Linked DNA regions of Homo sapiens. The protein of the gene in region 2 interacts with the protein of the main gene of each other region in a pairwise test. Each region holds a gene or a part of one and is shown on either strand. Other genes may lie near its edges.

Evidence for each region. The genes of interacting proteins can lie anywhere in the genome.
Region 1: the proteins of SHISA5 (region 2) and TVP23B interact in binary tests that used the Homo sapiens proteins (3 or more experiments, as listed by UniProt).

Annotation. Positions count from the first base shown.
Region 1 is NC_000017.11:18,784,183-18,791,207, reverse strand, and holds part of TVP23B (Golgi apparatus membrane protein TVP23 homolog B), read right to left. Parts: intron 2,174-7,025; exon of another isoform or gene 2,157-2,173; intron 1,856-2,156; coding exon 1,773-1,855; intron 313-1,772; coding exon 168-312; intron 1-167.
Region 2 is NC_000003.12:48,501,157-48,508,440, forward strand, and holds the start of SHISA5 (protein shisa-5 isoform a precursor), read right to left. Parts: upstream 3,019-7,284; 5' UTR 2,939-3,018; coding exon 2,863-2,938; exon of another isoform or gene 2,565-2,862; intron 2,038-2,564; exon of another isoform or gene 1,939-2,037; intron 138-1,938; coding exon 1-137. UniProt on the Homo sapiens protein: Can induce apoptosis in a caspase-dependent manner and plays a role in p53/TP53-dependent apoptosis.

The DNA.
Region 1 (7,025 bases), on a different chromosome or scaffold from region 2:
AAAAAAAAAAAAAAAAAAAACTACATGCAATTTGATATATCTAGCACTTCAACACAGATGAGGTTTGAAGTAACAAAAGATTAACAATAATGCAAAATGCTAACTCATATTTTTATACATCATTTTCATATTAAATATAATTTTAAAATAAAAACAATCAAAATTACCTTCACTGCCCAAAAGTCACACGACAACAACAAGATAATTGTCACCATACAGGTAATAAAGCTGCTGCTGAGCAACCCACAGAGAAGATAGACGATGATTGCACTGACTCGAAAGAATAAGTGGAAAAACGATGCTACTGGATGTCTGAAAACCAAAACACAATGAAAGAAATGCAATTACATTTTACTACAGGTACTAGCAAATGTAGAGAAAAATGTTTTAGCCATCGTGTAACTGTGAAGAGTTTTGTCAAAATAAAAGAGGTGACTTTAGTAGGATGAAGCAAACCTCCTAGCTCTCTTTTTCTTAAGCCCCACTATTTGACTAGGCCCTGTAGTTACAGAAAATACACTATGCACAGATGACTTTAACACCTCATTGAATATAAACTTTCACAAAATAGATAATAAAGAATTTTATCTCTCTTGGAGAAATAAGGAAACTGTATCTTAGAATTTGAATCCTATTTTCAAATCACACCAAAAGAATTCCTTAGCCCTCAGAAATCACTCAGACATTAAGACAAAGTTATCAGGTAGTTTGTTTCTTTCTTTCTTTTCTTTTTTTTTTTTTTTTGAGACGGAGTCTCGCTCCGTCGCCCAGGCTGGAGTTTGGTGGCACAATCTCGGCTCACTGCAAACTTCACCTCCTGGGTTCACGCCATTGTCCTGCCTCAGCCTCCCAAGTAGCTGGGACTACAGGCGCCTGCCACCACGCCCGGCTAATTTTTTGTATTTTTAGTAGAGATGGGGTTTCACCATGTTAGCCAGGATGATCTCAATCTCCTGACCTCGTGATCCACCTGCCTCGGCCTCCCAAAGTGCTGGGATTACAGGCATGAGCCATCGTGCCCAGCCTGTTTCTTGTTTTTTAATAGCTTTTTTGAGATATAATTCACATATCATACAATTTACTTATTTAAGGTAAACAATCTAATGGTTTTTAGTACATTCACAGATTTGTACAACCATCACTCCAATTTTACAACTTTTCATTACCCCAGACAGAATCTTTGTACCCACTGGCAGTCATTCCCCATTTACCTTCAAACCCCTCAGCTTCTAGCAACAGCTAATCTATCTTCTGTCTCTACAGATTTGCCTATTCTGGACATTTCATATAAATGAAATCATACAATATGTGGTCTTTTGTGACTGGCATGAAAGATGAAAGAAAAGTAAAAGACAGCATTTTAGCAGGGTTCAAGTAGAATTTGCTTTCAGTAAGTGAATTTCTTTAGAGAGAATTAAATTTAGAATAGAAATGTTATGTGATTTTGAAATGTGCACAATAAATCAAAATGTAATGTATCTATAGAAACTATATAAAGAAATGGTACATTCTTGGAAAATAGCACAGAATTAAAAACACAGGTGTTCAAATAATTGGATTTGCTGATTTTAAAACTCAGTATTAAGTATGCCAATTATTCACAAGAAAATCTGAAATGTCATCTTTGTCGTACACTAAACGTCAAATTAGCAACATGCAGTATTCACAAGCACATTGAAACAACTCTGCCTTGACTCCCATCAGCTAGCACTGACATACATACAGAACAGCACTGGACACTAACACAGCTCATGCAACTTCTCTCCTCCTACCTGATTTTGGCTTTTCTTGGTCTATTAGTCGTCTCCTCTTCCGCATCAAACAGTGAAACATCTTCAGTGTCATCATTACTATCCTGGTAGGAAAAATAAATGGTCAAGAAGCAAAACAAAATTCAGTGTTTACACAGCCACTGCAATGCAAAGCTGCATACTCATCAAAATAGAAGATAAAATAATGTGGTTACAGCATCAGGAATTCAAAACCTAGGAAAAGGACACATGCAGATCCTCCACCCGCCTCCTCAAATCATCTGGCAAAAAACCCAGAGAATAATCGAAGTCTCAGCTCCTCCATCCCTGCCCCTAGGCTGCACCATCTGAGAAAACTCTAGGGTGCAGATGAGGCTACTACAACTTAACACCTGTCCTCCTCACCTGTTCTCTCCCAAGTCACAGAGCAAGCCGAGGCTACTGGGGATAATCTCAAGGTTTCTGGCTCCTTCACAAAATCATCTGACTGCATCCTTAGTTCCATGACCCCTTCTCACAACTCCTCCTCTTCTTATCCAAGGCTAAACCAATTATTTGTGCTCAGAATAACTTCTTTTCATGCCTCCTCGGGGATTTGTTTCATCATTTTCCCCTGTATTTACACTTTCTTCTATCTTCAAGTCTATCTATTGGATCTTTCTTTTTTGTTGTTGTTGAAATGGAGTTTTGCTCATCACCCAGGCTGGACTGCAATGGCACGATCTTGGCTCACTGCAACCTCCGCCTCCCGGGTTCAAACGATTCTCCTGCTTCAGCCTTCCAAGTTGTTGGGATTACAGGCGTGTGCCACCACACCCAGCTAATTTTCGTATTTTTAGTTGAGACGGGGTTTCACCATGTTGGCCAGGCTGGTCTTGAACTCCTGACCTCAGGTGATCTGTCCGCCTCAGCCTCCCAAAGTGCTGGGATTACAGGCATGAGCCACCACGCCCGGCCTCTATTGAATCTTTCTAATCAGCATATGCATATAAACTTCTTCAAGGCCACTTATTAGGCAAAAAAAGATTTTTTTAAGAACCCTGATCCTGAATCTCCCCTTCAATCCTCTACCTTCCCAAAGCATTGCTTCCTTTTACAACCTTAGGCTTTTTTTTTTTTTTTTTTTGAGATGGAGTCTTGCTCTGTCGCTCAGGCTGGAGTGCAGTGGCGTGGCCTCAACTCACTGCAACCTCTGCCTCCTGGGTTCAAGTGATTCTCCTGCCTCACCTTCCCAAGTAGCTGGGACTACAGGCGCGTGCCACCATGCCTGGCTAATTTTTTGTATTTTTTTTTGTAGAGACAGGTTTCACCGTGTTAACCAGGAGATTTCATGACCTTGTGATCCAGCCGCCTCGGCCTCCCATTGCTGGGATTACAGGCGTGAGCCACCATGCCCGGCCCCATAACCTTAGGCTTCTAAGAGTGGTTCACGCCTCAATTCACTGCAATTCCCCTCAACTACAACAAACCTGATCCTGTTCCTCTCCTAGTGGCACTCACCAGCCTCCCTGCCTTTATCCCTCTCTATTCCAGCCTCTCCTTTACATTACCCAGAGCAATCCTCCCAATATGGAAATCACACCATGTCACTCTACTGCTCAAATTTTTCAATGGCATCCCTACAAGTATAGGATAAAATTTAACTCCTTCACATAAAGCATAGAAGATCACAGAATCTAATGCCCCCTACTTGCTTCTGACACTGTCTTCATTGAGCACTGTTGAGCACTGAAGCAATACTGTTACTACATGGTCTCTAAGAACACTACAATCTCTCTCCCATCTCCTGCCTTTCACATGTTGTCTCAGAAAACTCTTCCCTTCCTCATGCCCTGCTCACCACCAAATACCAAATCATCCTTCAAGTTTTTTAGCTCAAATACTGAAATAGCTGAAAACCTGTCTCTGAAATCCCCATGTTCCCACAGCACTTGGACGAATCTCCATTTGAACAATCATCTCAGAGTATTCTTATTGCACATCTACCCGCTCCTACCTCCATATAGATTAAGCTGCTGGAGGACCTAGAAGACAAGGTTTTTTTTTTTTTTTTTGAGACAGAGTCTTGCTCTGTCGCCCAGGCTGGAGTACAGTGGTATGGTCTCAGCTTACTGCAACCTCCACCTCCTGGGTTCAAGCTAGATTCTAGTGCCTCAGCCTCCTGAGTAACTGGGATTACAGGAGTGTGTCTCGGCTAATTAGCCTGGCTAATTTTTGTATTTTTAGTAGAGACAGAGTCTCACCACGTTGGCCAGGCTGGTTTCAAACTCCTGACCTCAAGGGATCCGCCCACCTCACCCTCCCATAGTGCTGGGATTATAGGTGTGAGCCACCACGCCCAACCAAGACTGTCTTTGCATTGTAGTAAATCCTAGTGTCTAGCAGAGCATTCAGCCAAGTGGTACAGTATTTGTTGAAGGCATGAGTAAATAAGCAAAGGAGACGATAATATACAGCTGACTGTGATCAGGGCTGAGAAATCTAAGTGCAAATGGGAGCCAGGGAAGGAAGCAAATCATTCCTACTACAGGGCACTGGAGAAGCTTTCTGGAGGAGAGTTTGTCAGCTGGGCCCTGACAGTCCGCGTAGGCCTCCCTAGACTAGGTATATTTTGAAAGGCACAGGTGGGAATACAGGAAGTTTGTCTAAGAAATGGTCAAGTAGCTCATGCAGTAAGTGATGGATGCGAGAAGCTCCTACTGAGCTAAGGCTGAAAAGGTAAAATGGATTCAGATCTATGAGACTAGTGGTTCTCAACCCTGGCTACAATTAGAATGCTTTTTCTTAAAAAACAAACAAACAAACAAAAAAAGGCTGATACTTGGGTCCAGCCCTCAGTGGTTCAGATATAATTGCTTTGAGGTGTGATCATAACGTACAGCAAGATTGAGATCCACCGTATGATGTTATGAATAAAAAGCTGAGGCCTTCTGCTCTCGATCCCAACAGTCTAATCGCCATCCAGCGGCCAGGGAGACTTTTTCACATCAAATCCTATCATTCCCCTACTGAAACCTCTCAGCACTATGACTGAAAAACAGACTCCCTATCATGACCTATCATGATCTGGTCCCTGCCAATCTCTAAGACCTTATCTCAGGCCACTCACTCTTCATTAACTGTGGTAGGCTGAATACCTCCTCACCCCTCCCAAAAATGTTTAGGTTCTAATCTCTGGAACCTGTGAATATGTAAATTTACTTGGCAAAAAGAATTTCACAGATGAGATTAAGTTAAGGATCTTGAGGTCAAGAGATCATCCTGGATTACCCAGGCTGGTCAGATGACGTGATCACAATGGTCCTTACAAGGGAAACAAAGGAGGGTCAGTGAGAGAAGGTGATGAAACAAGCAAAGTAGAGATGAGAGACAGAGATTTGAAGAGGCTGTGCTCATGGCATTAAGATGGGGAAGGGATCCCAGGTGTTTAGAAGCTGCATCAGGCAAGGAAACTGATTCTCCAGAACCCCTACCCACACCTTGATGTTTAACCCCTTGAGCCTCATTCTGGACTTCTGACCACCAGAACTTTACAACAGTACATATGACTTCACTGCCGCAGTAGCAACAGGAAATTTATACAGTACCTAAGCTCCTGCCCAGACTGGCCATTTTTTTTTTTTGACACAGGGTCTGGCTCTCGCCCAGGCTGGAGTGCAGTGGAGCAATCAGGGGTCACTACTGCAGGTCCTACATCTCAGCCTCCTGAGTACTGCAAGCCACCATATCTAATATTTTAATTTCTTGCAGAAATAGGGTCTCGCTATGTTGCCCAGGCTAGTCTCAAACTCCCGGGCTCAAGCAATTCTCCTGCCTTAGCCTCCCAAAGTGCTACGATTAGAGGCATGAGCCACCATGCCCAGGCTGGCCTTCTTTTCAGTTCCTTAAACATGCCAAACTTGGGCCCCGTCAGGTTCTTTTGCACTTATGGTTCATATTACCTAGAACACTATTCTCTTACCCTGCTCTTTGAAAGACTCATTTCTTCTCATTTATTCAGTAAATACTGAGTGCCTACCAAGTGCCAGGTACTGCTGTAAGTGGTACAGATTTAAAAAAAAAAAAAAAAAAGACAAATAGCTCTGCACTCCTGGAGTTACATTTACTAAGATGGGGAAGACCACGGACACAAAAGATTTCGGGGCAAAATCAGCAGTTTGATTTTGGACATTTTAAGATGCTAAATGACATTTTAAGATGCTAAAACCAAAAAGCGTTGAAAGGGAGATCCATTGGAGTGTTTTAAGTGTAAGACTGCATGTTCTGACTCACCTGTTAGAAAGAGAATTCTGGCTACTGTAGTAAAAATCTGGAGGGGGAGGGGAGAAGAAGGAGGGACAAAAGCACAACGCTAGGAGACTGGTTAGGAAACTACTTTAATCACGAGGCCAAGAAGTAATGGCTTGGTCTAAGATGGATGCAGTGGAGGTGATGAAAAATAGATTCCAAGTACATTTTAAGGGAGAGCTGACAGGATTTGCTGATGGACTGACTGGGGAGGTGGAGGAAGGGTAAATAAAAGGAATCAAGGAAGATTCCAAAGTTTTTGTCCTGAACAACTAAAAAGATAAAGATGGCTAAGACAGACTCCTAGCATTCCAATAATTAGAGATCACAAAGATAAGAAGGAATAGGCTGTGGGGACTGAAAAAGAAGTACCAAGGAACATAAGGTGAGCCAGGAGGGGGTAGTGTCCTGGAAACCAAACAAAGTGCCTCCAGGAGGAGGATCCATCATCTGTGTCAAATGCTGCTCATAAGTAAGATGAAAACCAAAGAGAGACCACTGTATTTTTTTTCTTTTTTTTGAGACGGAGTCTCGCTCTGTCGCCAGGCTGGAGTGCAATGGCGTGATCTTGGCTCACTGCAACCTCCACCTCCCGGGTTCAAGCGACTCCCCTGCGTCAGCCTCAGCCTCCCGAGTAGCTGAGACCACAGGCACATGCCACCACCCCCAGGTAATTTTTGTATTTTTAGTAGAGACGGGGTTTCACCATGTTGGCCAGGATGGTCTCCATCTCTTGACCTCATGATCCACCCATCCTGGCCTCCCAAAGTGCTGGGATTACAGCCATGAGCCCTGCACCCAGCCATGACCACTGTATTTTTAACAGGTCATCAGGGAACTCAGTAAGAGCAGTTCCAGTATGGTTGGGAGAGGGGAAGAGAGACTGACTAGAATGAATACAAGAGAGACTGGAAGAATTAAAAGACAAGCATATATGATACAAGTCTTTAAAGGAAAAAGAATGGAGTGACCAGTGAAAGAGCATGT
Region 2 (7,284 bases):
CCTTTCCTCGCTCCACACAAATTTCTTCAGCACGTCAGAGCAGCAGTATTGGTCATCACAGGTACCACAGCAGAAATCTGGACAGGACTCGGGGAAGAGGCTGAGTCCACGGGAAGCCATACACACCTCACCACGTGCTGGAGAGGAGAAACACATCTGTTCACCTGTGCCCACGGGCCAGGCCCCAGCAGACACAGCGCCCTCCCTGGCACAGCCACCAGACCACACACACACACACATGCTGCACCGTCTCTGAGCCACCCTAGCCACAGGCCACCTTCTGACCCCTGGCCACTGCTCCCCCTCAGCCTTGCCCTATCCCACGGGCCACAACAGAGCTGCCCTAACTGGGCTCCCTCTCTCCCTCACCAGTGCACTGGCCTCCTGATAGGAGGGTGAACTTTCTCAATGTGAGTCTGATGGGGCCACACCCTGCTCTCAAACCTCCCCTAATTCCCACTGCTTCAGGATCAAGGCCCGAGTTTCCAAGCAGGGTCTAAACTGCAGAGTCCTGAAGATCACTCCAGCTCTCCAACCTGTCCACACTCCGCTCACATTCTTGCCTGGTTCCTATCTCCTGCCTTTCAACTCTACTCATCCTTCAAGGCCCTACTCCAGGTGGCCTCCTCCAGAAGCTGCCCAGGCGAGAAGTCACACAGCTCAACACCTGCAGGGGACCAGACACTGGACTGTCCCTTTCTTTCTTTTTTTTTTTTTTTTTTGAGACAGAGTCTCACTCTGTTGCCCAGGCTGGAGTGCAGTGGTGCGATCTCAGCTCACTGCAATCTCTGCCTCCCAGATCCAAGCAATTTTCCTGCCTCAGCTTCCCGAGTAGCTGGGATTACAGGTGCCTGCCACCAGGCCCAGCTAATTTTTTGTATTTTTTAGTACAGACAGAGTTTCGCCATGTTGGCCAGGCTGGTCTTGAACTCCTGACCTCAGGTGATCCACCCATCTTGGCCTCCAAAGTGCTGAAATTACAGGCATGAGCCACCGCACCCCAGCCAGACTGTCTAGTTCTTAATCCTCGTTCACTCTCTCCCTCACTCAACCACAGCAACCTCAGCCCCTGCTGGGCACCACAACTGCAGGGGCCTGGCTCTCACAGACCACCCCATAACCATGATGGCAGGCTAGATCCTGGTCAGAAATTGTCACACCCACCATACCAGCGTTCATAAAGCACTTAGCCCCGCGCTGGGCCTGCAGCAGGTGTCCAGGAAATGTCTGTGCCTTCCAGGAGTTTGAGACCAGCCTGGGCAACAGGGCTCCAAGGCAGTGGCACCATCTGTAGCCCTGGAGCCATCACAAGACTCTCAGCACAGAGTTGGGATCTACTGACATCCTTACAAGTCTCAATAAACGAGGTCATGCTGAGGGGATCTGGCTGACAACAAATGTGGAAAATAACCCAGGTTTTTGGATGACCACAAGGTTTACAAACCTCCAGGAAGATGCTACAGTCAAATGTTCCCATGTATCCTCAGGCTACATTAGCAGAGACCTGTGCCCACTAACAGGAAGGAACAGTACCGGATTCTGCCAGGGCAGACTCCAAAGAGAATACCTAGTCCAGCAAGGCCCACAAGTCCGCAGTAGGCAGGGGACAGGTCTGATGATAGCCCTGAGGCATAACTACATCGGCCTGGAAACAGTCTGCCATAGCACGTGGCCTCTGGAGACCCAGCCAGGCCAGGCACCTGGCCATGTGCAGCATCTGGTGCCCGGGCCTGATCAGGACACCACACACCCCGAGGCTGTCAGTAGAGTGAAGCCCAGAGACAGAGACACCAAGTGACCTCCTTGGGAAGAGGGAACTTTAGTGGGGAGTTGGGGGGAACTGCACTTCTTGGCAGCTCCAGGCAGAACCCTGCTCTGGGCAAAGCCATGGAGCAGAGGATTGGACCATTGACAAGCCCAGTTTGGCCAGCTGCCCACCTGAAAGCTGGTATCATCAGCATGGCCCGTGCCTGGTGGCTCAGGTGAACCCATATGCAGCAAGGTCTTCACAGCCCAATCTGAGCCTCTGAGCTAGGGCTGAAGACACACCGGTGAGGCTGTTTAGGCTGAGTCCATGGCACAAATGCTCTCTGACCCCCAGACCTCACTGAATCAGTGACCGACCCTCCTACAGGCTCACTCCAGGAGTGGGCGGATTCTGGGCACAAGTCTCCCCTTTCTCATTTCTCTAGCCCAGGTCCTCTGGATTCATCCCAGCCCCCAGGAAATACAGCCTTCCCCTCCACGAAGCCACCCACCCCAAAAGGGTCTTTGGCTTCCCATGGGTGGGCAGGGGATTGTTCCAATTCCTAACCCTTTAAAGGACCCGCCCCCAGCCAGCCTTCCAGACTCTGTGAATCACCTATCTGCAACCAACACACACAGTGGTGTCTCCACCCCAGAGGCCAGCCTCAGCGCCGGGCTCTACAGGAACACAAGGGCCAACGGAGGCAGCGGTGGGGGCTCCCAGACATTAAACAGAGGCAAAGAGGGAAGGCCTCTGATGGAGGGGCCAGCTCGCCCTGCAGCCACCCGCCAGACTAAAGCCAGGCAGGGAACCCTACCCTAGCCTCTGGGGACTCCATCCCCTGGAACATGGGCGGGAGGGCAGACCCCTCCCCACCGTTCCAGGACAGACAAAGGTGGCAGCTGCCTGGTGTCTAGGCAGGGTTGTTCAGGCAAGGAGGGTGCTGGGGTGGAGGAGGGGTCCGCAGTCGTGGGGGTTCGCTGACGGCCTCGGGGCAATCAGGGGTCAGTGGGGGGCATAGTGGGGCTGGTGCTGCCCGGCTCGTTGGAGAGGCAGCGCGGGGAAGTGTCTGCCCGGTCCCAGGGCAGGACGGGCCGCCCCCACCCCCGGCTCACCACCCGGAGGCGGCGTTAGCAGCAGCAGCAACAGCAACGGCAACAGGATCCGCGGCGCGGGGACCGGCGCAGTCATGGCTGGGCGGGCGGACGGGCGGACGGACGCGAGCGCCGGGCGCAGTGCCGCCACAGCCTCAGTGATCCGCGCGGCCGCCCCTCTCCCTCGCCCCGCCCCGCCCCGGCCCGGCTGGTTCCCGGAACCTCTGTCCGGGGGAGCAGGAGGAGGAGGAGGGAGGAGGAGGGAGGAGGGAGGAGGGAGGAAGGTGGAAGGAGGAGGAAGGAAGGAAGCGGACGACTTCCCAGCCTCGGGGCCAGCTTCGCGCCCGGGGTCTGCGCGAAAACTTGGTACCGGTTCCCAGACTCGGACAGGCGCCGGGCGACGCACGGAGTTTCCTTCTGCTCACCGGATGCATGGGGGGCGGCGGCGGCCCCCAGCTCTCAGGCCTGGAGGGCGTCCCCGGGAATATGCACCCTGACACTGAGCGCCTACTGTGTGGGCTGGGGGACAGCCACAGCCATCCCTCCCAGCCGCAGTCCCGGCGGATCCTCACTTGCCCGAGGGCTACGTGAGGACTAGGTGAGGCGGTGCGAGGACAGTGCCCAGCGCAGACCTTGGCACTCAGTAGACACTCCACAAATGCCGGTTCCCTTCTACAGGCCCAGTCGCCAGCTCAGAGGACACTCGATCTCCTGCCCCCTGGGACTGACACCATCATCCCAAGGTGATCCCCAGCCCCAGCCCTGGCAGGCTCAGCGCTGGCGCAGTGGGCCAGGACTGAGCTAGAAACTGGCAGCTCCCAGGGCACACAGCCAGGCCAACTTCCCACACAGGGCTCCGCCCCCTCACTTCGGGGCAGGGGTCCAGGCAGAATCAGGGATGTTGAGTCATTCTTCCTTTTATGCCCAGAGTTCCTGACCCACCCCCACTCTGCACCTAGCACAATCAGAACATTTCACTCAAGACAGAAAACGTGAAATGTCACACTAGTGGGGCACCCAGGCTGGGTTGTGCACCCTGTGTGCCACCATATATTTCTCACCTAAAGGTGGGGGCATCGCTGTGGACAAAGAGAAACCCAAGGGGACAATCTGGGATGTTCCCAGTAGTTTCCCAGGCTAGGGTGTTAGAACAGGGAGAGGAAGGCCTGGGTCTCCAATAAGCCCCCATCACCTCCTGGCCAAGAAGGGCTTAAGACTCACCGTGCTCAATACACATGTGGGGGGCAGGGATATGACAGTTCCCAGGCAGGATGCCCTCTGGGAGGGTCTTAGTGAGGGACTGGAGTCACATCCTCCCTGACAGCCCAGCCTGGTTATCCCACCTCTGCCTCCTGAGCGCCACTCTCCAAAGCTGGGTGCAGCCTAGGTCCCCCTTCTGCAGAATGGCCAGTGTATGCTCCTCATGTCCAGCTCTAGAGCCATCCTGTGTTCCACACCCTGGGTGCCCAGCCCTCTGCCTCCCTAAAGGTTGCTCATTCCACTCTGCACCATCCACAAGCTTGGTTTCTTGTTCCTTGGTTTTCCAGTCCCTGCCCCCCAGCCAAGCTCCTAAGAGTTGTTCTAAGCCTGGGCAACATAAGGAGACCCCATATCTACAGAAAATTTTAAAATTAGCTGGGTATGGTAGCAAGCACCTGTGGTCTCAGCTACTTGGGAGGCTGAGGTGGGAGGATCATTTGAGCCCAGGAGATGAAGGTTGCAGTTATGATTGTGCCACTGCACTCCAGTCTGGGCAACAGAGCAAGACCCTGTCTCAAAAATAGAAAAACAAGGCCTGGTGCAGTGGCTCACACCTGTAATCCCAGCACTTTGGGAGGCAGAGGCAGGCAGATCACCTGAGGTTGGGAGTTTGAGACCAGCCTGACCAACATCTCCATGTTGGATAGACATGGACCAACATCTCCATGTTCAGTAGAGCCCCGTCTCTACTAAAAATACAAAATTAGCCAGGTGTGGTGGTGCATGCCTGTAATACCAGCCACTCAGGAGGCTGAGGCAGGAGAATCGCTTGAACTCGGGAGGCAGAGGTTGTGGTGAGCCAAGATCGCGCCATTGCACTCCAACCTGGGTGACAGAGCAAGACTCCATCTCGAAAAAAAAAAATGAAAAAAAAAAGAATTGTCCTTTCCCACCTCCTATGCTTGCCTTTGGCTTCTCTACTCTGCTGCCCCCAACCCCAGATCCTTTAGGGGCCTCTCACCTGGCCTCTTCCTCCCTACTTTTTTGGTCTTTGGCTCTCCCATACCCTCTTATCTGCCCACAGCTCATGGTTGAGCTTGGTGGGTGTTTTGGGCTCCACCCAGGGCTGTGCATGGGCAGGAGTGAGTGGAGGCTAGGATCACCCCAGTGGCTTGGAAATCGCAACCATGCATCTCACAGGCATGTGCCCATGTGTGCAGGCATTTTCTGTGGGTCTAAGGGAGGAGACCACCCCTCATATTGTCTTATGCCCCATTTCTGCCTCCAAAGAAAGAAAAAGTAAAAACTAAAAGGCAGAAATGAAATCCACAAGCAGACAGCCCGGCGCCACACCCTGGGTCTGGTAGTTAAAGATCGACCCCTGACCTAATCAGTTATGTTATCTATAGATTACAGACATTGTATAGAAAAGCACTGTGAAAATCCCTATCCTGTTTTGTTCTGACCTAATTACTGGTGCATGCAGCCCCCAGTCACGTACCCCCTGCTTGCTCAATCGATCACGACCCTCTCACGAGCACCCTCTTAAAAGGGACAGGAATTGCTCACTCGGGGGACTCTGCTCTTGAGACAGGAGTCTTGCCGATGCCCCCGGCCAAATAAACCCCTTCCTTCTTTAACTCGGTGTCTGAGGAGTTTTGTCTCTGCAGCTCAGGCTTGCAAAGCCTGGAAATACAAGTTGCCTGGGGAAAGTGACCCCTCCAAGGCAGAAACCAAACTTGGCCCAGATGCTGTACCAAGGCTAGGACTTGGCCCAGATGCTGTACCAAAGCTAGGTGGCTCCCCAAACCTTCCTACAGCTCTGTAAACAGCAATTTTTTTTTTTTTTTTTGAGACAAGGTCTCACTGTCACCCAGGCTGGAGTGCAGTCACGGCTCACTGCGGCCCCAATTTCCCCAGGAAACTGGGGTGATCCTCCCACCTCAACCTTTGGAGTAACTGGGACCACAGATGCACACCACCACGCCCAGCTAATTTTTGTATTTTTTGTAGAAGTAGGGTTTTTGCCATGTTTCCCAGGCTGGTCTCGAACTCCTGGGCTCAAGCAATCTGCCCGCCTCAGCCTCCCAAAGTGCAACAGCACTTTTATCAAACTCTCCTCAAATACCCAGTTTGTTAAGAATGACTGTGTTCTGCTGGGACCTTGGTTACAGTTTGTAGGTGAGAACTCTGCATCAGGCTGGTGGAGCAAAGCAACACCCACTGATGCTTGTAAAGCCCAGGGTGAGAGTAACCAGGTGAGAATGAGGCCATCAGCCCAGCCCCAGGACTGACTGCAGGACCAGATCGGTGAGTTCTACAGTGGAACGCTTGCTCAAGGATCCTTGCCATTCTTCTTCATTCAGCACCTGGTCCCCTTTCCTCCACATCAGAGGAGGAACACGCTAGATATTATCTTTTTCAGATTCCTTTGCCCCAGGGCAAGAGCTTTTGCCCAGCCCCAACCAATCAGATGTAGCCTCCCTGGAGTCAGTCAGGGGTACTGGCCACCAGCTTTGATGGAGGGCTGCAGCAGTCCTGGCAGAAACATGAGTCTGCACCTGTGGGGAGGGCTGTGTGAGTCACAAAGGCCCCTGCTTCCCCCTCGTGGCAGGAGCAGTGGCATGCTCACCAGGCCAAAGTAGCACTGTGGTTTGGGCTGGAGACGATACTGCTTCGACTTGGAACCTTTCTTTCCAGCCGCCTTGTTGGCTCTGAGGGCTCCACAGTTGCTTTTCATAAATTGGGTTTCTGATTAAGTTGGGCAGAGTCAGTTTCCTCCAACTGACAGAGAAGTTCTCACCAGGGCCGGGCACCGTGGTGACTCATGCCTGTAATACCAGCACTTTGGGAGGCAGAGGTAGGCAGATACCTCTTGAGCGCGGAGTTTGAGACTAGCCTGGGCAACATGACAAAACCCCGTCTCTACAAAAAATACAAAAATTAGCTGGGCATGGTGATGCGTGCCTGTATTCCCAGCTACAAGGGAGGATTGCTTGAGCCCAGGAGGCAGAGGTTACAGTGAGCTAAGATTGCACTACTGCACTCCAGACTGGGCAACAGAGCAAGACTCTGTCTCAAAAAAAAAAAACCTAAAAAAAAAAAGAAAACATCTGGACAAGGTGGCTCAAGCCTGTAATCCCAGCACTTTGGGAGGCCGAGGCGGGTGGATAACCTGAGGTCAGGAGTTCAAGACTAGCCTGGCCAACATGGCGAAACTCCATCTCTACTAAACATACAAAA